2 separate regions of the Homo sapiens genome follow, and region 2 is linked to region 1. Evidence: fine-mapped QTL for protein levels in blood plasma. Region 1 holds a variant in brackets. A gene starts in the other region. All regions are shown on their forward strands.

Region 1 (8,000 bases):
CAGCATTTAGGCCTGGCTGCAAATTTCACCATCATGCCCGGGGGCCCTGCTTTCTGCTGATGTTTCAGCCAGGAATGCCAGGCCCTTCACCCCTCACCCTGGCTTGCATTCAAATGACCCCTGCCTCTGTCTCCTTCACCAGACTTTCTCCTCCTCCTCTATGCCTACAGAACACTTTTACCAACTCCACTACAGAACTTTCCACCTGAATTGCTTGTTAACATGGTATAGCCCCCTAAAAATGTGTCCTTCTGAGGAGCAGAACTTATTCAAGTTTATAACCCCCAAGGGTCTAGCCCCAAACCTGGTGTATCTCTGTGTGTGTGTGTGTGTGTGTGTGTGTGTGTGTGTGTGTGTGTGTCCATGTGTGTGTGAGTGAGTGAGAGAGAGAGAGAAAGAGAGAGAGACAGAGAGACAGAGAGAGACTGTGTTATGCCAATATCAACATAAACAGCAGCTAACACAATGGGGGTCTGGGCCCACGTGCCTCTCTGCTAATCACTAACTTTCATGATCTTCTCTGACCCTCACAATAAACCTGTCATAGAGGATCTATTATTACTCCAAACATACTTAGACTCAAAAAGGCTAGGACATTTGCTCAAGGTCCCGGCACTAGTAATTGGTAGGACTGGAATTTGAACCAGGCTCATGTAAGCTCATAAATCAAGACCCTTCTCCACCACACTTACTTGAAGGGGTAAACAGAGACTGAGCAATATGTGGGAGGAGTGGGTGGGAGGCTGGGGAGGGAGGTATGGAATAAATAATCATGGAAGGGGATGGCAGATGGAAATTAGAGAAATTAATACATCCAAGAATGTTCTCAGGGTTTTGGTCAAACCATGGACTGACTCACCAATATAAAGACCACTCTCCTTGTCATCCCAAACCATTCACCTTCAAGTATCCACGGATCTGCACTGTCACTTTCTTAGCCCAGGTCAACCTGTCACCCATGTGGATCCTTGATCAACACAGCACTAAAATTGTATGTAAAACTGGCTTAGCTAATACTCATTAGCTAGCCACACTTAGGCACATTACGTATATTAGCTTCTTGAATCCTCACAACAATCCCCATGGATAGGTATCATCATCATCCTCATCATCATCATCCTCATCATCATCCCCATCCTTGTTGTAAGGTTTTCCAGCAAGCAATGGAAGACGGGGACTTGAACCCAGGTAATCTGCCACCTTCACCACAAAGTATAGCCATCGTTGATTGTGTCCTTACACTGCTCTAAGCATCTCCCCATGTCTTCTGCTTTAAGCAAACTTATGAGATGGGGAGTGTTTTCATTCCAATTTTACAGATGAGGAAACTTACGTTCAGAGTTCAAACCCTGAATTCTGTTCAGGTGTTTGGGGAGGTCAAACCCACCAAACACCACCCAGCCAAGGCCACGATCATTCACTGATCCTGCAGCTTTATGAGAATAATAAAAAAGATTCCCCTTACTCTGGGCAATTGCAGCCCTGAGTCTACAGTATGCCTTGATGACCAGAGTGTAGGTGAATTTTGGCTCCTACTTAACTCCCTCCTGTAGTTATATCCTGAACAAGCATACGCAGAAACACTGCAGCCAGCTAAAAATAGGCAGAACTGAGATTCAAACCCAGGCCTGGCGTGGATCTAGTTTTTCATCATGTAGATGCTCCATCACCCACTCAGACACCACTCCCCCTCTTTTTTTTTAATCCAGTTCAAGAATCAACCCAATCCAAGGCTGCTCAATTAACGCTCAGTGCAGTATCCTCAAGCAGGCAAACGCTCAGAACGTAGACGGATCCCTCTAGATCATACTCCTCCCACCTCCTGGGGCTGTGGCCACTTCATCACAGTCTCAGAAAAAACTCTGGGCTCACAGAAGGTAACTCTGCACCATGAGACAATTTGTCGAATCCTTGCAGCCGGTACCGCATGTGGCCAAATCTCCCCACCCCAATCAGGCAGCCACTTCACACAGTGACCTTTCCTGATCTGCACTGTCAGGCTGCAATTTAGCCATTCTGAGGACTCTGTTGGAGGCTGCTTCAGCCAAAAGCTTGCCTCTGGGGAGCCCTCCCAGGGCCCTGGACTCCGTTCAGATGTCACTTTGCATTAAGGGCCCACTGTGTGGGGCTCCTGGAGAGGAAGAAAGCAAATCTCTGCTGAATGTCCCTAAGACAGAAGTCAAGTGAGGAGCAGGGGAGGCAAAAGAAAGACAGACAGACAGACGCTGGGCATCTAAAGAAGGGGTGGAGGACTGGTAGTTCCAACTGGCAGCAGAAATAATAATACCAGGAGCTTAACATTTACCAATCACTTAGGAAAAAAGATTAATACTAAGTGAGAGTTTAAGATGTGCCAGGAACTCTATTAGGCATAATTTTTCTTTTTTTTTTTTTGAGACAGGGTCTGGCTCTGTTGGCCAGCTGGAGTGCAGCAGCATAATCGTAGCTCACTGCCACCTCAAGTGAGGCTCAAGTGATCTCCCACCTCAGCCTCCCGAGTAAATGAGACTACAGGCATACACCACCAGCTAATTTATTTATTTATTTGTAGTAGAAGATGAGGTCCTACTATGTTGCCCAGGCTGGTCTCAAACTCCTGAGCTCAAGCCATCCTCCCGCTTCGGCCTCCTAAACTGCTGGGATTACAGGTGTGAGCCACTGGGCCCCACCTAGACATAATTCTTCAGGTGGGGGCCGGTAACAGTTACTCCTCCCTTCTCCAATATAAAAATAGTGCAGTGTCCAAGCAGAGAGGCTACAAGATAAATCAATTGCCAGCAAAACCCTTGGTGTATAACTTAGCTATACAGTTTCACTCATGGCAAGAGTAACGGCAGCTGGGATTTCTTACTTACCTCCTACCTGTCAGGGATTGTGTGTGATTCTTTTGTTCTTCTTGGGGCTTGTCTTATTATGCTTATTGTAGACCGACTGTACTGATGGTCCCAAGCAATGGCCTGCTGTATGCTTGCCCTTGGCAATGTGCCCTGCTGCTTCTCCCAAGAGGTTGAGATGACTTGTCCATACCTTGAATATGGGCAGGTCATGCGACCTGCTTTGGCCAAAAGAAGGTAGCAGAGGTGACCCTAAGTTTGGCTTCTCTGTCTTGGAACCCTGTCACTGCCATTTGCTCTCTACTGGAGGATGAGAGACCACGTGGAGGCGAGTCCAAATGACTTTCCTCTCAGTTGAGATAATCCTAGACCAGCTTAGAGGCAGCCAATCTCCAGACATGACAGCCCAACTGAGATCAGGAGAACCACCACTGAGACCAGAAGAACCATCTAGCTCACCCAAAGACTCTTGAACAGTAACAAATAAAAATTTCTTACCGTTTTACCCCACTGAGTGTTGAGGTGATTTGTTAAAACATCCCAAGAATACAATAAATAGATTTTTTTAAAAAACCTGAGCCTCAGAGACATAAAGTCACTTGTCTAAGGCAACCCAGCTGATAAGAGATGGAGCTGGGATTCTACACCATTGTAAGTTTTCATCCACGATGATCTATACCTAGGGTCAAGAAATCATTTTCTGTAAAGGACTGGCTAATAAATATTTTAGGCCTTGTAAGCCATACAGTCTCTGCCTCAACCTCTCAACCCTGCCATTGTAGAGTGAAACCAGTCATAGGGCGTATGTAAATGAATGGTGTGCTGTGTTCCAATAAAACTTTATTTCTAAAAACAGGTGGAGGGCCAGATTTGGCCTGTGAATGGCAGTTTGCTACCTCCTGCTCTAGGTTGCTTCTCTGTATCATCACCATTTGTGCCAGCTTTTTTCCCCTTTCTCTGTCTGTCGCCTCCCTCTTTCCCTCCTCTAGAATTTCCACATAAAATCCCGCAATTGTCTTCTGCCATGTTTATGTTCTACCCTGAGACA[T/A]GTGACAAGTACCTCTCAACTCAAGGGGCTTTGTTTCCCCAGCGTAAGTGTGTCTCAACTCCCTGATTTCATAAATCTATGTCATTTCCAGAAATCAGTTTGACTGATGTGTTTTCCCAATGTTAGGATGATATCTTTCTGGATTCCCTAGGTATGGGAATTTAAAAAGTTCTGATTGCATTCCAAATCCAAGACCCAACATCATCAGGGTGACAGTTGAGAATGCAAATGACTCCTATTCAGAATATTAAAAACAAAAGCTTCAGTTCTGTACCTAGGAAAATTTGACTGGCTCCAAAAAAAAGTTTGCAAAAAACCAAAATGAAAACAAAACAAACGCAAACATGCAAACAAAACAAAACCCCAAACCCAGAGTGATGCAGAGGAAAGTCTAAGAGCTGTTTCATGATCCCACACACCCCGTCTCTGGGGCAACCTCTCTGTAAGAAGCAAGAAAGGAAGATGACGATGACTTTCTGCAGAGAACAAAAATTTGGCTTGAAGCAAATGAAATCCCAGTGATTTTCCATTTTAAGGATATCTATCTCATCCAAAAAATAAAATGTTATAATAGATTTCATTTTTTCCATCTCTTTCTTGTTCTTTTTGCCTCTTAGCTGTCCTACTTAGAATATCGAACCGTGTTGGCAATCAAAGTAGACTCTGAACTTGGCTACTTTCTCCTCAGTTAAAAGAAAAAGAAAAAGAGGTAGACTTGAGTGTTTAGCAAAGCAGCTCATCCAGTTTAGAGGCTGAAAGCCACATCTTCAAAATTTCAACCAAGGAAAGTTAGGGTTAGTGTCAAACTTTCCATAATTTTTAACAACTTTCTAAGTAAAACTAGAGATGTCTATCTGGACTGACTTTAATTTTAAAAGTCTAAAGCACCAAAGGCAGCGGAAGGTCCATCTCATGTTTCATTACGGTTAAATTCTATTTCCAAGAACCACCAACCTCAGTCCCGGGACCTGGCATGGATGAAGCTATTTCTGGAGGCTGCCATGACTCTTGGAGCCAAGAACAAAGTGGAAGGAGACGCCTTACAGGCAGGGGCCTTCAACCGCATGGAAGTACCAGCAGATCCTGTGTTCAGAATCCCCTACTGTACTCTTAGCTCCCCAAACTGTTGAATCGACCCAAGGAGGTGTCAAAGCCTACCATGGAGCATGCACTTGTAAATGTCTGCAAATGACATGGGCTTTCTCTGTGTTAGATGTGGAATAATCACTACTAACATAATTATCTCCATTATAAAGATGAAGAGACTGAGGCCAAAGTCCAAGGCCCACAGCTAGTGAAGGGCAGAGCTGAGATTCACAGCCAGCTCATCTGACTTCAGGGCCTATCTGAAACATGACAAAATAACTGACTTGGTAAATGATCCTATTAATTTGGGTGATCAGATAGAGGTGGTTACAATGTCCTGGGGTGGATCAACACCCTGGCTCTGCCACCAAATCCTGATCCTCCTCAGGCCACCTGACAATTGTCTTATTTTATTCATTTATTTATTTTTGAGACACGGTCTCTGTCACCCAGGCTGGAGTGCAATGGCGCAATCATATCTCACTGCATCCTCAGCCTCCCAGGCTCAAGGGATCCTCCCACTTCAGCCTTCTGAGTAGCAAGGACTGCAGGTGCACACCACCACACCTGGTTAACTTTTTTTTGGCAGCGACTGGGTTAATATATGATTTAGTGGGCACCACCACACCCAGCTAACTGGCTATTTATGACTTTTTTGTAGAGAAGAGGTTTTGCCATGTTGCCACAGGGCTGGTCTTGAACTCCTGGACCCAAGCGATCTTCCTGCTTTGGCCTCTCAAACTGCTGGGTGTGGGTGTGAGCCATTGTGCCTGGCCTAATTGTCTCATTTTAAAAGAACTTTCATTCAATGAGCAGCATATGTAAGATGTGGGACCTGTGAGGTTGGCAGGCTGAGGTTATTTCCCATTACACAGATGTCGAAACTGAGGCCCAGGGGTCCTGCCCACTGTTACCCACCTGGTAGTGGCACAGTCAAGTATGAACAACAGATCCTGTGTGTCCAGCCCAGAACCAATAGAGGGGTTTGGATTTGGGTGGGGTGGAACACACCCACCTCAATTTTCCCAGCCTCTGTCTGTTCTAAGGCCAGAAATCCTCTGAGGCCCCTGAGCTGTGTTTTCCTAAAGCTCTGAAGGTCAAATACGGTGCTGAGGACCTCACACTTAGAATGTGCTGAGAAGGGGTACAGGAATGAAAGCTGCTGGCTTAAGTGAAAGACATATACAAAAAGACCTGGAAATTGTATTTTATCGCAATAGCTATTTATTCCTGCTGTTCGGTGTTACAAAAATGCCATGTTCCAAAAAGGCTTAAACAAAAGACACTGTTCCACTGACCAAAAATTAAACAGATAAAACACAGTGTGGGGACGAGGTGTGGTAAGGAAAGGAATGAAGAGAAAAGAATATGATAGGATGGCCAGGCACGGTAGCTGACACCTGTAATCCTAGCACTTAGGGAGGCCGAGACCTGTGGATCTCTTGACCCCAGGAGTTCAAGACCAGCCTGGGCAACATGGCAAAACATCGTCTCTACAAAAAAACCCATAAATAATTAGCCAGCTAGCCGGGCATGGTGGTGCCCACTAAACCATACACACACACACACACACACACACATATACACATATATATCTGTGTGTGTCTATATATATGTTTTTTGAAAGGTTCTAAATATTATATATATTATATATACATGATGGGAAATTCAATTTGCCACCAGAAGCATTTAAAATAATACCATAGGTTTTATGAGAGATATGACCTCTGTCTCTGAGCTTATGAGACATGTGAGAGATATGAATTGTCTTTGAGCTTCCTAGCAGGCAATGCAAAGAGGGAAACACAATTAGTTATTTGAATCTGTGTCACAGACGAGATTCCTCACTTCACAAAAAAAACTCTCCCATCTCTATTTTTTTCGTGTTATTATCTCTTGATTGTGTTCTGTTTCTCACATATCAGTTCCATCTCTGTATTTGCTGAGCTGATCTGTGTATCCAAAATGACCTGCTGTGCAGGGCTCTTCACAATAGCCCCTGAAATTCAGAGAGGCTGGCTGATGTGGATCCCTGTACAGCTCTGGTATAGTCAAGTGTTTATTTACTGAGCGTCACCTGAACAGACTGGCGATGAAGGAGAAGTTTAAAACCACTTTGGTAGGAGACGATGCCACCAGAATAGCAATGGGAAATGAAGCAGAGAAATCCCTGGCATTAAAGTTGAAGTGAATGAGAAAAGCACATTTGTGTTGACATCATCCCTGTTGGCCCACACATGGTCTTTCAGAAACACTTTCCTGCACAAAGTGGGGCACATGGGAATACAGAGGCCACTTCCTCACATCTCTCCACACTTTGCCCAGTCCCACGGTCAGGGATGAGACGTTCATCCACTTCATCTCAGCCCTGAGCACTAAGGGGGCCACAGTGGGCAGGGTCACTGTGTGGGAGCCTCAGGAACCAGGACTCTGGCACATGCTGGGCAGCTCCATGCAATGGAATTGTAAGCTGAGTTGGGCTCCCTGCAGGCATGGGAGCATTTCAGAGCCAAAATTCCCACCTGCAGCTACAAGCAAAGAGAGTGGAGGTCCTACTTTAGCTAACCCGTAAAGCGGGCACTTCCAAGAAGACTTTTACTGGAACTCTGTGCTAGAAGATTGGGAAGTTGATTCTCTGTCGGCTACCCCCACTGCTGCCTAGGGGTCCTGGAAGGTTGGGAGGGGAGGAGAGGTGACTGCAGGACAGGGTATCATGGCATCCCCGAGTTTACCTCCACCAAACACACCCAAAACCTCTGTTTAACACCCAACAACTAGTATTTAATTTTCATTCCGCTGACCTGGGAGCATCTCTCTAATGGAACTTCCACTTAGCATAGCCACTGAAGTTCCCCAGGGACAGTGGTACCAATTAAATAACGTGACACTTTGGAGGTGTAAAGCTATGTATTTACTCCCAAACCAGAGGCTTGGGTAGTTTTTAACATAAAGATTTTCTCCCTCCTTTTTTTTTTTTTTTTTTTTTTTTTTGAGACTGAGTCTCCTTCTGTAGTGCAGCGGCACAATCCTGG
Region 2 (16,367 bases), not on the chromosome of region 1:
TCTGCCAGTACCATCCCCCACCCCTCCCCCACTGGCAGCAGCCCCTGGCCCAGGGCCCCAGTGGGGTGGTGGGGACAGAGAAGGCACTCAGGGCTGGGGAGGGGTGCCCAATCCCAGCTCAGGCCTATAAATAGCTCTTTGAGCCCAGTAGATTCCCAGGCAAGGTTGCCTCATTCAAGCCCCCGGCAACAGCCCGCCCCTGGGCCCCAGGCCAGCCCCTCTAAGCTCAGCCCTGGCACCAGCGAGGAGCCGGGGGGTGGGGGCAAGGGGTGGGGAGGAGTGGAGAAGCGGGGGAAGCAGAAGGATGAGGATAGGTGGGGTTGGGGCTCAGCTCTGCGCCCACAGACCTTGGCTTCCACCTGGTCTCTACTCACTCTGTACATCCTCGGGCAGGTGATCCTAGCTCCTTAAGCCTCAGTTTCCCCAGCACCTGTAAAATAAACAGCAGTCCCTGCCTGTGTGTTTACTTCCCATTTCATTCTCCAAGCAACCGGTAACGTAGGGACATTCATTATCCCCCATTTTATTTATTTATTTATTTAATTTTTTCCCAAGATGGAATCTCACTCAGTCACCCAGGCTGGAATGCAGTGGTGCCATCTTGGCTCACTGCAACCTCCACCTCCTGGGTTCAAGCGATTGTCCTACCTCAGCCTCCTGAGTAGCTGGGATTACAGGTGTGCACCACCCCACCCAGCTAATTTTGAATTTTAGTAGAGACGGGATTTCACCATGTTGGCCAGGCTGGTCTCAAATTCTGACCTCATGATCCATCTGCCTTGGCCTCCCAAAGTGCTGAGATTACAGCCTTGAGCCACCGCGCCCACCCTCCCCCCATTTTATTTTATTCATTTTTGAAATAGGGTCTCACTGTGTCACCCAGACCAGAGTACAGTGATGCAATCTTGACTCACTGCAGCTTTAATCTCCTGGGCTCCAGCGATCCTTCCCCCTCAGCCTCCCGAGTAGCCGGGACCACAGATGTGTGCCACCATGTCCTGCTAACTTTTAAGTTATTTTTTGTAGAGATGGGGGTCTCACTGTGTTGCTCAGGCTGGTCTTGAACTCCTGGGCTCAAGTGATCCTCCTGCCTCTGACTCCCAAAGTGCTGGGATTACAGGCATGAGCCACCGGCACCTGGACTATCCCCATTTCAGATGGGGAAACTGAGACACAGAAAGATGAGATGGCTCACTCAGAGTCACATTGTTACGAATGGCAGGGAGGGGGTTTGAACCCCAGACTTGTGGAGGCTGAGCTACTCGGTTCTCACGCACGTCACGCAGCTGTTCTCAGCGTCTTTCCCAGTGTGAGCCACAGCCAACCCCCCAGCACGCTCCAGCCTCACCGACTAGTCATTGCATGCTGTTTGGGTGCTGCTGACACAGCTGTCACCTGCAGACACTCACATCAGCTGGGATCCTTGACCTCCATCTCTCCTCTGTGACACAGAGTCAAACAGTCAGTGCAGCTTCCCGCTGTATCATCTTGGACCCCAGGGCTACCCCTTGCTCACCTGGGGTCCCCCCTTATCCCTCATTCATTCCTACCCTTTCTTTGATAATCTTTTTTTTTTTTTTTGAGATGGAATCTTGCTCTGACACCCAGGCTGGAGTGCAGTGGCACAGTCTCGGTTCACTGCACGCTCCGCCTCCCAGGTTCAAGTGATTCTCCTGCCTCAGCCTCCTGAGTATCTGGGATTATAGGTGAACACCACCATGCCTGGCTAATTTTTGTATTTTTAGTACAGACAGGGTTTCACCATGTTGGCTGGGCTGGGCTGGTCTCAAACTCCTGACCTTAGGTGATCTGCCTGCTTCAGCCTCCCAAAGTGTTGGGATTACAGGCATGAGCCACGGTGCTTGGCCTCCTTTCTTCTTCTTTTTTCTTTTTTTGATGGAGTCTCACTCTGTTGCCCAGGCTGGAATGCAGTGGCCCAATTTCGGCTCACTGCAACTTGCGCCTCCAGGGTTCAAGCGATTCTCCTGCCTCAGCCTCCCGAGTAGCTGGGATTACAGGCGTCCGCCACCACACCCTAATTTTGATTTATTAGAGATGGGGTTTCACCATGTTGGCTAGGCTGGTCTCGAACTCCTGACCTCAAATGATCTGTCCTCTTGGCCTCCCAAAGCGCTGGGATTATGGGCGTGAGCCACGGCACCTGGCCAAGGCCTCCTTTCTTTGATAACCTTGTGGAAGCTATCTTGTCCCTCATTTGCCTATCCTCCTACCAGATGGACACGCACCCTCAGAGATGCTAAACACACACTCACAGATATAGGACCCAGGGTGGAGCGCTGCGAGCCCATTCTCAGCACAGAAACACCACGACCATAGGAAGGAAGGCAGGGGCAAAGCCTGCCCTCTCTGGGCACATTTCCCTCCTCATGGCTTTTTTTTTTTTTTTTTTTTTTTTGAGACGGAGTCTCACTCTGTCACTCAGGCTGGAGTGCAATGGCATGGTCTCAGCTCACTGCAACCTCTGCCTCCTGGGTTCAAGCGATTCTCCTGCCTCAGCCTCCTGAGCAGCTGGGATTACAGGTGTCTGCCAACACGCCTGGCTAATTTTTGTATTTTTAATAGGGAAAGGGTTTCACCATGTTGGCCAGGCTGGTCTTAAACTCCTGACCTCAGGTGATCCACCCGCCTTGGCCTCCCAAAGTGCTGGGATTACAGGTGTGAGCCACCGAACCCAGCCCTCATTACCATATTTTTAATGGTGGTCAAATACAGATAACATAAAACTCACCATCTTAAAATGTGTAATTCAAGGCCATGCGCGGTGGCTCATGCCTGTAATCCCAGCATTTTGGGATGCTGAGGCGGGCGGATCATTTGAGGCCAGGAGATCGAGACCAGCCTAGCTGACATGGTGAAACCACATCTCTACTAAAAATACAAAAATTAACTGGGTGTGGTGGCAGGTGCCTGTAATCCCAGCTATTCAGGAGGCTGAGGCAGGAGAATCGCTTGAACCTGGGAGGTGGAGGTTGCAGTGAGCCAACATCGTGCCACTGTACTCCAGCCTGGATGACGGAGCAAGACTCCGTCTGAAAAAAAAAAAAAAAGATTGGGGTCTCATGTCTCATGGCAGGGACATGCCTATGCCTCTGCATAAAGCAAAATTATTCATGTGTCAACAGCAGTACCCAGTCCATAGAGTGTGCTACATAAATGCTGATCAGACAAAGGTGAATGAATGAATGATACAATCTGGCTGTAGTTGCTGGAAACAGCTCGGGGGTGTCACACACCTGGACTCCCACCCTGCGTGCCTCTTACCAGCTGTGTGAACAAGGAGTCTCCCCGTCTCGTCCGTGCCTCAGTTTCCTCTCTGTAAATGGGGTAAACCAGTAATTGTAGCCAAAACTGCTTTGAACGTGAGTCCTGGAGAATCAGGCAGGGCGAGGTTCGAATCCCAGCTCTGCCTCTGTGCGTGACCTTGGGAAGCGACTTTGCCTCCTTGGGGCTCAGTTTCCCCACCTGTAAAATGGGACGGCCTCATCCTGGGGCATAATGGGGACGTTTAACGCGGTTCCTGGGGCAAAGAGAATGGGAGGAGAATCGATGCCATCTTCTCCTGGGTGCGGTGAGTGTCCAAAAAATGGGCGGGGTGGGGATTTTAGGCAGGGGAGCCCCCTCCCTCGCGCAGCCAGAGGCCTCGGGCTGGCGGGGGCGCATGCGCAGAGAGCCCTCGCGGCCCCTTTATAAGCACTGAGGCGGCGCTGGGGCCAGCGGAGCGCAGGGCGCAGGGGCTGGACCCGGCGCGGAGCTGGCTGAGTCGGAGCGCAGCGTCCTTTGTGCCCGGCGGCCGCCCCGGGATGCGTCCGAGCTAGGAGCCAGGTGGGGGATCCGTGAGGGGGCCGTGTTGCGGGAGAAGACTTCGGGATTAGAGACAGAGCTCAGGATTAGGGAGAGGACCTGAGACCAGGGAGAAGTCCCCAGAATGGGGAGGGGGCTGAAGCGGGGGAGGGGAGCCCTAGGTTGAGGAGGGAGCGCGAACTGGGAGGGGGCTTGGGAATGCTAGGTGAACAGACATTTGGGGAGGAAGGTTGTCCGCGGAATCCGGAGACTACCCCCCGGTGGGGAGGGGGCCGGGCTGGGGGTGGGTCTCAGGGTTGAGGAGGGAGCAATGGGAAACAGGGCTAGGGGAGGGGCCCCCCGAGTTTGGAGGGAAGAAGAGGACACCCAGATGCCGAATGGGGGACTCTGGAACAGGGCACCCCCGTATCTCAGCCGAGACACCCCAGGATTTTAAGTAGGGATTCCCAATTTGCGGTTGAATGGAGGATTCCGGGCCGGACTGCAGTGGGGAGGGGGCCCCCAGATCACCCTGTGCCCAATGGAAGGGTATCTGCGCTGAGAGCGAACGGCCATGGGGAAGGGGCTCCCTGCCATCTCCCTGTCCTTTTGGGTCAGGTCCGGTCACCACGTTCTGACTCAGGGAGGAGGTCCTGGGGGTCCCCATCCCAACGTGGTTCCCCGTTATTCCCTTAGACCTTGGGTTGAGGTGTTGTCCCTTATCCCAGGGAACACACTGGGTGTCCCAGGTGAATGTTGGGTGGGGGTCCCCTAGACCCCCCAGCTATGGATCCCCAGGACCTGTGAGGGATACCAGCTCAGAGGGGGGGCTGTCCCCCAGCACCTTCACAGCCTCCCACGTCCTTACAGCATGACACAGACCCCTACCCCCACCCCCTTTAGTTCCACCTGTCCATATGGACACATGTGGAAGCGCTGGCTTGGTTTGGGGGCACAGGGGCTGGGAAGTAAGGGGCTGGGAAGTAAGGGCCCTGTCTGGGCAGGAGAGACCCCCATCCCTACGCGTGGGGCTTTGTTCCTCTCAGGCAGCATCAATGAGAAACAGCCAGGCCAGGGAGAGGGTTGGCTCTGGGCCCCAGCGGGGGACGTGGGGGCAGGGCAGGCAGGAAGGGGTGGGTGCACTGTGGGACCCCAGAACCCAGCCGTCGCAATAGCTGATGGACATTCTGAAATCAAGTTCCCCCTCAAGGATATGGGGGTTTTGTGTGTGTGTCCACCCCAGACAGGCAGGGAGGGGGAGTATGCCCAGGGGTTCTAGGGTCCCCTGTGAGTCTGATGTGACTGTGGTTGTGTCTTTGTCAGAAAACTTGTGCCGAGGGCCACATCACCATGTGGCAAAATGATGGGTGTCCATCGGTCACCAAGGCCACAATTATCCATCTCGGTTTGTGCCAGGGGCTGGCATCGCCGTGTGAGTGAGGAGCTATGTCTGATGCTGTTCCGTTCATCAAGGGGTTTATGTGGGGGGGGGGGGGCCCGAGACTGTGGGTGTGTGTCTTTGTGCAGAAGACACGCCGCCTGTCTTGTAAGTGCCCATATTGTCTCTCTTTGTTAATGTCACTGTGAATCTGTGTGAGTGTGTGTTTCCCCAGGGTCTGTGTCTGGGGTGCGTGGCTGTGTGTGTCCCGCTTGTGTATCTGGAGGGGCCAAGGGTTCTTTCCATGCGGTTGGCAGTGTGCACCCTTGGCACGGGGGTGTGGGACGTGGTCTGTGTTCAGAGTTGGGGCGCTAACAGGGAAAGCTTGAGCAGGGGTTGAAATCCCCAAGGGGAAGCCCGGGATGATGACTGAGCCCATCTCCCTTTCTCCTCCACGGAGTTCCACATTCACACCCATGCACACTAATACACCCTGACTCTCAGGTCAGAAACACACACATGTGCGCACAGCCCCCTGCTGAGGGTCACTCAGACTCACACACATCCACAGATCACACTAGGTCCCATGTGCTCCACCCGGTGCACGGAGCTGCTGCAGGCTCACACACACAACATGCACCCACCACATGGCACAACCGCCTTCACACCCTTGCCAGGACACAACACCCCGGACACACACCCAGTCACAAACACTCACAAATGCCCATTGGCAAACTCACCTTCACTCAGTGCTAACGGAGACTTGAGGTGGGGGTGAAGTGAAGGAGGGGACACACACACACTTACACACACACACTCACACACACTCTCTCACACACACACATTCACATGGATCCGAGCTGCCCCTCCTCCAGCACCCCGCAGGCCCCTGCTTGCATATGCATGAGGCTTGTACATTATTCATGAGGGCACGGGCCCCAGACAGCTGTGTAAATGCTCATCTCTGGCCGCCCTGGGGAGGAGGTATTTTAAGAGAAGGGTGTGGGTGTGTGAGGGTGCGAGTGGAAGGGAGTGGGAGGGTGTGTGTGGGGGGTGTGCACCTGAAACTGTGTCTGTCACCATGTTGGGCAACCTCAGTATATTTTTAGCGTATACATGAGGCTTTGTGTCTAAAGAGCTGTTTTTAAATTTAACATTTCTAGGACTTTGCAAGTCTTAGGTCATTTCATCCTCACAGTAGCTGCAGGTGGTACTTGCTGGATAATCTCCATTTTACAGGTGGGGAAACTGAGGCACAGAGAGATTGAAGCAGCTTGTCCCGGATTAGAAGCAGAGCTATCTGGATGTAGTCTGACCTGTTAACGGGGTGTGTGTGTGTGTGTGTGTGTGTGTGTGTGTGTGTGAGAGAGAGAGAGAAAGAGAATTCTCTGGCCTTGTCCTCTCGTAAGGCCCTGCTGGGGGCAGGTGCAACCCGGAGTCCTGTCTCTCTCTAATACCTGGCCAGGCCTGGAACAGCCATGAGGGGACCCCACACTTGCTCAGGGTTCCAAGGGGAAGAAATGAGAACAGCCTGGTGAAGGCAGAGGTTGCTGAGGTTTACAAGTTGGTAGTTGGGAGCACTGGTCCAGGGTCTGGCTTTGACCTCTACCCTGCTGTGCAGCCTGAGGCAAACCTCTAGCCCTCTCTGGTCCCTGAGGCATCGTGTTAGCAGGCAGGAGGCAGGGGTGGACTAGGTGGGCTTTGCCGCTGCGTTGCCGCCTCAGAGTTCAGCACCACGGACAGGTCCCAGGCCGGCCTCCCAGCAGGGGACTCTGGGAGCTGGGAAGGAGAACTGGGGAAAGGGACAGCTGTCACATACAGCCTCCCCTTCTGGACTCCGTTCACACCCCTTCCTCAGGGATAATTTCTTATGGGGGCGGGGAGCAAGGATTGGGTTTGCAGATGATGTTCTAATTTTCCATCTGCGCCCACCTCCTGAGCCCTGGTGACCGGGGTTCGCAGGAGTGGGAGGTTTTGGGGAGGGACCACCTCCCCAGGATTCCTAGTCTCTGGAACAATGTGAAGTCAGGAAATGCACTGCTGTGTCCCAACGACTGGCATGGGCTTTGCTCACAGTAGGCGCTTAATAATTGTCCACTTTATCCCTATGGGTCCTAGCCCCTATAGGGAAATGGACCCACAACTGAAGTTTCTCTGTGGGCCTAAGAAGTATCTTTGTTGAGCTGTGTGAAGTCAGGAGGAGGATGGGTGGGCAGGGGTGAGCCCCTTCCTCCAGCTGGGAGTTGGCGGCTCCTCCAAAATCCCAGAAACCAAGAATAGAATCTTGGTGACAACCAAATCCTGGAATTGAAGCTGCGAATCGTGTCAGCCAGCAAACCCAGATTAAAGGATGGCTTAGAGGCCAGCCTGCTGCCTGGACTGAGGATGCTGGGAGGACTGGGACAGACTGCTGCCCTCTAGGAGCCGCCAGTCTGATGGAGGAGGCTGACTTGAAAAATGGTATTTCAGTCTTGGCTGTGTTAAGGTCGGTAATAATAATAGCAGCAGCTAAAATGTACCCCTTACTGCATGAGACAGTTCTAAGCATTTTATATGTATTGACTCATCCATTCCTTTCAACTACCTGATGTTATCCCCATCTGACCCACAAAGAAAGTAAGGCACAGAGAAGGTAAGCAACTTGCCCAAGATCACACAAAAGGAACAGTGAGCCAATTCCAGATTTGATTCACTACCAGCACCCAGGCTTCTGACCACAGACTTCATTGCTTGGATTGTTTTTTGTTGTTGTGTTGTGTTTTGTTTTGTTTTCAGTCTCGCGCTGTCACCCAGGCTGGAGTGTGGTGGTGGAATCATAGCTCACTGCAGCCTTGAACTCCTGGGCTCAAGCAATCCTCCCACCTCAGCCTCCTGCATAGCTGGGACCACAGGTGTGCGCCACCAAGCCCAGATAATTTTTTTTTTTTTTGAGACAGAGTCTCACCCTGTCGCCCAGGCTGGAGTGCAGTGGCGTGATCTCGGCTCACTGCAACCTCCACCTCCCGGGTTCAAGTAATTCTCCTGCCTCAGCCTCCTGAGTAGCTGGGATTACAGGCGCCTGCCACCACGCCCAGCTAATTTTTGTATTTTTAGTAGAGACGGGGTTTCACCATGTTGGTAAGGCTGGTCTCGAACCCCTGACCTCGTGATCCACCCTCCTCGGCCTCCCAAAGTGCTAGGATTACAGGCGTGAGCCACCACGCCTGGCTGCTAATTTTTTAAATAGAGGTAAGATCTCACTATGTTGCCCAGGCTGGTCTCAAGCTTCTGGCCTCAAGCAGTCCTCCCACCTCAGCCTCCCAAAGTGCTGGAACTATAGGCGTGAGCCACCGCGTCCAGCCACTGCTATTCTGAGGTCAAGTGGCCCTGGGTTCGAATTCTGGCTCAGCCCTTTGCTGGCTCCTTCTGTGACCTAGAATAACACACTGGTCTCTCTGAGCCCTGGTTTCCTGATCTGTAGAGTGGGGGAGTTTGGTCCTGCAATGCTGAATATCTGGGAGGGTTGGGCTGTGGCTCACCCCTCCCTCCCTCTCCATTTTGTTCCAGATCCAGGATGGGGGCCCCGTTTGTCTGGGCCTTGGGCCTTTTGATGCTGCAGATGCTGCTCTTTGTGGCTGGGGAACAGGGTGAGTTGGTTTGTGGGGAGGGAGAGATTGGGGTCTAGGGGATGGACAAGATGGGGCAGCTTTTGAATTCCAGAGCCTTCTCCTGCTGGTCTCCTGGCATGGGCTAGAGAATAAAATGAGAATAGATTTTAAAAGGTCTTTGAACAGTCAAAAGCGAACAGGATACCTAAGAGGTTATTTTTAGTCATTGTCAGCAGAAGCTGGAGATTCCCGCCTCTCATCGTTTTGCTCAGATGAACTGGAGAGAAAGAAAGAAAGAAATGAGAATAGTGCAGAGATTGATTAGTGATGTCTGCCAAGGGTGGAGCGATGGAAATAAAGGTCTGTGTCCCTCTACTGGTGGTCAAGAGCCCAGGTTTTAGAAATCCCTCACAGATTTGGTCTGTGACCTTAGGCAAGTATAATTATCTCTCTGAACTTCAGTTTCCTCAACTCCCCCCAAAGAGAATGAGACATTGCTACTCTGCAGATGGTTATGAAAATCAAATGAGCTGATTGCTATAAAGTGCCTGTTACAAAGATGGTACTCTGCAAACACCATTTCCTTTTCATTAGCTGTCTTTTGCTTTACCTTTCGGAAAAACTGGGGCTCAGGGAAGGAAAATGCCTCTCCCAGGGCCATACAGTGAATCAGTGGCACTGGAGTGAAATCCCTGTCCTTATAAAAATAAAGTGAGGGGCTAGGCACAGTGGTTTATGCCTATAATTCTAGCACTTTGGGAGGCTGAGGCAGGCAGATCACTTGAGGTCAGGGGTTCCAGGCTAGCCTGCCTAACATGGTGAAACTCCGTCTCTACAGAAAATACAAAAATTAGCCAGGTGTGGTGGCACATGCCTGTAATCCCATCTTCTCGGGAGGCTGAGGCATGAGAATCGCTTGAACCTGGGAGGCGAAGGTTGCAGTGAGCCGAGATCATGCCACTCCACTCCAGCCTGGGTGACAGAGTCAGACTCAAAAAAATAATAATAAGGCTGGGTGTAGTGGCTCACCCCTATAATCCCAGAACTGTGGGAGGCCAAGGTAGGTGGATCAGTTGAGGTCAGGAATTGGAGACCAGCCTGGCCAACATGGTGAAACCCATCTCTACTAAAAATGCAAAAATTAGCCAGGCGTGGTGGCACACACCTGTAATCCCAGCTACTGGGGAGGCTGAGGCAGGAGAATTGCTTGAACTTAGGAGGCAGAGGTTGCAGTGAGCTGAGATCATGCCACTGCACTCCAGCCTGGGAGATGGAGCGAGACTCCATCTCAAAAGTATAAATAAATAAAAGAATAATAATAATAAGGGGCTGGGCACAGTGGCTCATACCTATAATCCCAGCACTTTCGGGAGGCTGAGGTGGGAGGATTGCTTGAGTCTAGGAGCTTGAGGCTGCAGTGAATCATGATCATGTCACTGCATTCTACCCTGGGCGATAGAGTGAGACTCAATCTCTAAAAATAGTTTTTTGTTTTTTTTTTTGAGATGGAGTTTCGCTCTTGTTGCCCAGGCTGGAGTGCAATGGTGCGACCTTGGCTCACCGCAACCTCTGCCTCCCGGGTTCAAGCGATTCTCCTGCCTCAGCCTCCTGAGTAGCTGGGATTACAGGCATGTGCCACCACACCCAGCTAATTTTGTATTTTTAGTAAAGACAGGGTTTCTCCATGTTGGTCAGGCTGGTTTCAAATTCCTGACCTCAGGTGATTTGCCCGCCTTGGTCTCTCAAAGTGCTGGGGTTACAGGCATGAGCTATCGCGTCCAGCCACTGCTTGGATTCTGAGGTCAAGTGGCCCTAGGTTCAAATTCTGGCTCAGCCCTTTTAAAAAATTTTTTAAAAGAGGGAAATAGCAGTCCCTGCTTGGTTCTTGCCTCTGAATCAGGCCCTCTCTCCACCTTCTCCAACCCAGGCACACAGGATATCACCGATGCCAGCGAAAGGGGGCTCCACATGCAGAAGCTGGGGTCTGGGTCAGTGCAGGCTGCGCTGGCGGAGCTGGTGGCCCTGCCCTGTCTCTTTACCCTGCAGCCACGGCCAAGCGCAGCCCGAGATGCCCCTCGGATAAAGTGGACCAAGGTGCGGACTGCGTCGGGCCAGCGACAGGACTTGCCCATCCTGGTGGCCAAGGACAATGTCGTGAGGGTGGCCAAAAGCTGGCAGGGACGAGTGTCACTGCCTTCCTACCCCCGGCGCCGAGCCAACGCCACGCTACTTCTGGGGCCACTGAGGGCCAGTGACTCTGGGCTGTACCGCTGCCAGGTGGTGAGGGGCATCGAGGATGAGCAGGACCTGGTGCCCTTGGAGGTGACAGGTCAGTTGGGGGCAAAGGAGGGGCCGGGGGCCGGGGAGAGGGAGGGCTGAGCCTGGAGCCCACCCACTGAATGTCACCTTAGAAATCACTCCCTGAGACCTGGCCTGGTGTCTCATGCCTGTAATCCCAGCACTTTGGCAGGCCAAGGCGGGTGGATTGCTTGAGCACAGGAGTTCGAGACCAGCCTGGGTAACATGGTGAAACCTCGTCTCCACAGAAAATACAAAAATTAGCCAGGCATGGTGGCACATGCCTGTAGTCCAGCTACTTGGGAGGCATAGGTGGGAGGATCACTTGAGACTGGGAGGTTGAGGCTACTCCACTCCAGCCTGGATGACAGAGGGAGACCCTGTCACAAAAAAAAAAAAAAAAAAAAGGAAAGAAATCACTCTCTGAACCGGGATTCCCTTTGAATTCTTCTGATAAAGTCCTAAAGTCTTTATGGTGCCTATAATCTGAGCACTTTGGGAGGCCGAGGCGTGTGGATCAGTTGAGGTCAGGAGTTTGAGACCAGTGTGGCCAACATGGTGAAACCCCGTCTTTAAAAAAAAAAAAAAAAAATTAGCCAGGCATGGTGATGCATGCCTGTGATCCCAGCTACTTGGGAGGCTGAGGCAGGAGAACTGCTTGAACCCAGAAGGTGGAGGTTGCAGTGAGCTGAGATTGAGCCACTGCACTCCAGCCTGGGCCACACCGCGAGACTCTGTCTCAAAAGAAAAAAAACGTCTGTATCAGTATGGGTACTATCTTGTCTTTAACACCTCTCTTTTTTAGCTATGAGAGAGGAGTCTCCAGCTCAGACTTCTGGGGGCCACAATATCTAGGCAGGATTTTTGTTTGTTTGTTTTGAGATGGAGTCTCACTCTTGTTGCCCAGGCTGGAGTGCAGTGGTGCTATCTAAGCTCACTGCATCCTCCGTCTAGGCAGGATTTTACTTGGAGTCAATTTTATGGTTATCTGATTTTATGTAAGACAAAGGATACTGGCTTTCTATTTAAAATAGAAATAAAAAATTCCTTGTAAAATAAACTTAAGTTTTTTTCTAAGTGAGGCAATTTTTTAAAAGTAAGTTAATTTAAGATGTATATTAAATATTAAGCAAGAACAATTCTCAAATACCTGTTTAGGCAATTCTTTTTTTTTTTTTTTTTTTTTTTTGAGATGGGAGTCTCGCTCTGTCTCCCAGGCTGGAGTGCAGTGGCATGATCTCAACTCATCGCCAGCTCTGCCTCCCGGGTTCACACCATTCTCCTGCCTCAGCCTCCTGAGTAGCTGGGACTACAGGCGCCCGCCACAGCGCCTGGCTAATTTTTTGTATTTTTAGTAGAGACGGGGTTTCACCGTGTTAGCCAGGATGGTCTTGATCTCCTGACCTCGTGATCTGCCCACCTCGGCCTCCCAAAGTGCTAGGATTACCAGGCATGAGCCACCGCACCTGGCAACCAATTCCTTTATTAAATTCTTCTTGTTGAGCTGCGTGTGGTAGTGCACACCTGTAGTTTCAGCACTTTGGGAGGCTGAAGAGGAAGGGTCACTTCAGCCAGGAATTCAAGACCAGCCTGGGAAACATAGCAAGACCCTGTCTCTATTAGAAAAACAAAAACAAACAAACAAACAAAAAACAAAAAACGGGGATGGGGGCCCAGTGGCTCATGTCTGTAATCCCAGCACTTTGGGAGACCAAGGCAGGAGAATCACTTAAGCTCAGGAGTTTGAGACCAGCCTGGGCAACATAGTGAGACCTTGTCTATACAAAATTCCAAATTCCAAAACATTAGCCAGGTATGATGGTGTGTTCCTGTAGTCTTAGCTACTCAGGAGGCTGAGGTGGGAGGATTGCTTGAGTCCCAAGAGATCGAGGCTGCAGCGAGCCTTGATCATGCCACTGCACTCCAGCCTGGGCAACACAGCAAGACCCTGTCTCAAAAATAATAATAATATGGCTGGGCGCAGTGGCTCACGCCTGTAATCCCAGCATTTTGGGAGGTCGAGACGGGTGGATCATGAGGTCAGGAGTTCGAGACCAGCAGATCATGAGGTCAGGAGTTCGAGACCAGCCTGGCCAAGATGGTGAAACCCCTTCTCTACTAAAAATACAAAAATTAGCCAGGCATGGTGGCACATTCCTGTAACCCCAGCTACTCGGGAGGCTGAGGCAGGAGAATCGCTTGAACCCAGGAGGTGGAGGTTGAGGTGAGCCGAGATTGTGCTATTGCACTCCAGCCTGGGCAACAAGAGGGAAACTCCATCTTAAAAATAATAATAATAATAATAATACAACTAAATAAGCCAGATGTGGCGGCTCACACCTCTAATCTCAGCATTTTGAAAGACTAAGGCAGGAGGATTGCTTGAGCCCAGGAGTTCAAGACCAGTCTGAGCAAGATGGTGAGACCTCGTCTCTACAAAATTTTTAAAAAAATATTAGCAGGGCATGCTAGTGTGCGCCTGTAGTCTCAGCTTGTCAGGAGGCTGAGGTGGGAGGATCGCTTAAGTCTGGAAGGTTGGAAGCTGCAGTGAGCTGAGATCGCACCACTGCACTTCAGCCTGGGTGACAGAGGGAGACCCTGACTCAAATAAATAAATAAATAAATAGTCAAAAACTAAAAATAAAGAACAGGGTTTGGCACACAGTAGATGCTCAATAAATGACTCAGTGAATGGATTATTGTACAGCAAACATCCCGTGGACTCCTGCTGGGAAACCTGTTTCCCTTAACTTAAATTGACCTTGGGCAAGTCCCTGATTCCTGTCTTGGGGCTTAACCTGCATGCCCCCAAACTGGGAACTGGGGACACAGTGTCTTACCACATAGTTTATGGAGTCAACCAGTCATCCCCTTTCAGAGGCCTCATTTCTGAAAATTGATAAAAGCTAACAACAACAACAACAACAAACTGATTGGTGGTGAGGCAAGTGAATTCCACATCTAGGTAACTTCAATTTCATTCATTCAGCCAAACTCTTTTTGTTGTTGTTTGAGACAGAGTCTCACTCTGTCACCCAGGCTGGAGTTCAGTGGTGTGATCTTGGCTCACTGCACCTCTGCCTCGTGGGTTCAAGCGATTCTCCTGCTTCAGCCTCTGGAGTAGCTGGGATTACAGGTGCACACAACCACACCTGGCTAATTTTTGTATTTTTAGTAGAGACAGGGTTTCACCACATTGGCCAGGCTGGTTTCCAACTCCTAGCCTCAAGTGATCTGCCTGCCTCGGTCTTCCAAAGTGCTGGGATTACAGGCATGAGCTGCTATGCCCGGACATTCAGCCAAACATTTATTGAGCACCTACACTGTACTGGTCCAATGCTGAGGACACAGAGCTCTCAGTTGGATAAGCCAGAGCAAAGTGTTTCATTTCATTGTCTTGTTCAGCCATTTCTTTCATCCCTAAATCAGAATTTGAATCACAGTGAGCCTGTTACCAGGGCTTCACATCCTGGCTTACATGTCACCTCCTCCAGGAAGCCTTCCAGGACCACATTTCCAGGCCAGGCAAGAACCACATTTGGGCCGGGCGCGGTGGCTCATGCCTGTAATCCCAGCACTTTGGGAGGCTGAGGTGGGCGGATCACGAGGTCAGGAGATCAAGACCATCCTGGCTAACATGGTGAAACCCCATCTCTACTAAAAATAGAAAAAAATTAGCTGGGCGTGATGGCAGGCGCCTGTAGTCCCAGCTACTTGGGAGGCTGAGGCAGGAGAATGGTGTGAACCCGGGAGGCGGAGCTTGCAGTGAGCTGAGATCGCGCCACTGCACTGCAGCCTGGCGACAGAGTGAGATTCTGTCTCAAAAAATAAATAAAATAAAATAAATAAAATAAAAAATAAATAAATAAATAAAAAAGAACCACATTTGGTCTCCCATTGCTGCCTGTGCTTCCCTATTAGCGCATGCACTTAATTCCTAAAAGGCAGAAACTCTCTGTCAGCCTTCTCCACACCTCCTGCCACCTCCAGGGCCTAACCCTGGGCATGAAGAGTGCTATCTTTGGAGTCAGATCTCTCTGAATTTGAATTCTGGTTCTGTTTCTTATTTGCTGCGTGGGCCTGGACCTGTCCCTCAACCTTTCTGACCCTAAGTTTCCTCCTCTAGAACAATCAGATTTGTTGTAAGAGTTCAATAAGATAATGCTTATAAATGCTTTTCTTTTTTTTAATGTTTTAGTTTTTTTGAGATGGAGTCTTGTTCTGTCTCCCAGGCTGGAGTGCAGTGGCTCAATCCCGGCTCACCGCAACCTCTGCCTCCTGGGTTCAAGCGATTCTCCTGCCTCAGCCGCCCTAGTAGCTGGGATTACAGACGCATGCCACCATGCCCAGCTATTTTTTGTATTTTTAGTAGAGACAGGGTTTCACCATGTTAGCCAGGCTGGTCTCGAACTCCTGACCTAAAGTGATCTGCCCACCTTGGCCTCCCAAAGTGCTAGGATTACAGAAGTGAGCCAACATGCCTGAACGGCCGTAAACGCTTTTCACATTGTAAATATTTGCTAACTTGTAACCCTTTATGGCCATTGTTATCAGTTTCCTCATCTGTAAAATGGGGGCATATGGATCTTGCTCCCCACCCTCGACCCACACTGTGCCTGGCGCTAGGTCTATTATTATCAGACAGGGGTGGGGAGTCATTCTGCAAGAGGTAGGTCTGTTCTTGAAGATTCCAGCATAAGTCAACTGTCCCCCCATCCTGGATGTTCCCCCACAGGTGTTGTGTTCCACTACCGATCAGCCCGGGACCGCTATGCACTGACCTTCGCTGAGGCCCAGGAGGCCTGCCGTCTCAGCTCAGCCATCATTGCAGCCCCTCGGCATCTACAGGCTGCCTTTGAGGATGGCTTTGACAACTGTGATGCTGGCTGGCTCTCTGACCGCACTGTTCGGTGAGGGGGATACACAGGGCAGGGAGATGAAGACTAGCTCATGGGGAAGGAGGTTCCTTGGGGGCTCCAGGAGCACACATCTGAGAGGGACCCTCCCCTTGTGTTGTCAGGTATCCTATCACCCAGTCCCGTCCTGGTTGCTATGGCGACCGTAGCAGCCTTCCAGGGGTTCGGAGCTATGGGAGGCGCAACCCACAGGAACTCTACGATGTGTATTGCTTTGCCCGGGAGCTGGGGGGTAAGTCTGGGACTGGCAGGACCCGGCCCCTCCGCCTCTCTTTGAGTATCTATTATTCTCCCCAACTCCCATCCTCCGGGGTCCTTATGCAACTCCCCTGTCTTATACCTCCCTAAACCTGCAACCAAGACATGATTCCACTCATTTTCTGAGCT

Which allele goes with the higher level. Positions count from the first base shown, and alleles are read on the strand shown. Strength reflects both the effect of a copy and how common the allele is.
With allele A in place of T in region 1, the plasma level of the protein whose gene starts at base 3,737 in region 2 is lower (weak association).

What was found. A credible set is the group of variants that fine-mapping cannot tell apart. PIP is the posterior inclusion probability: the model's chance that the variant is causal. The UK Biobank Pharma Proteomics Project read protein levels with antibody pairs (Olink). The fine-mapping took linkage between variants from a reference panel, not from the people measured, so its PIPs are less certain.
Region 2: NCAN starts here. The variant in region 1 is the best candidate, but not a certain one, in a credible set for the plasma level of the NCAN protein (UK Biobank, PIP 0.63).

The regions. Positions count from the first base shown.
Region 1 is chr16:17,285,559-17,293,558 of GRCh38, forward strand. All of the region lies in intron 2 of XYLT1 (xylosyltransferase 1), which reads right to left. Among named protein-coding and RNA genes, the nearest start is that of XYLT1, 180 kb to the right of the region's middle. The variant T/A (reference allele first, on the strand shown) is at 3,883.
Region 2 is chr19:19,208,222-19,224,588 of GRCh38, forward strand. It overlaps NCAN (neurocan), which reads left to right and starts at 3,737. Exons shown (of 15, transcript NM_004386.3): 1 at 3,737-3,843; 2 at 8,726-8,805; 3 at 10,694-11,095; 4 at 15,800-15,974; 5 at 16,085-16,212. The coding sequence starts at 8,733. RefSeq lists enhancers at 3,539-3,833, 5,386-5,886, 5,887-6,387.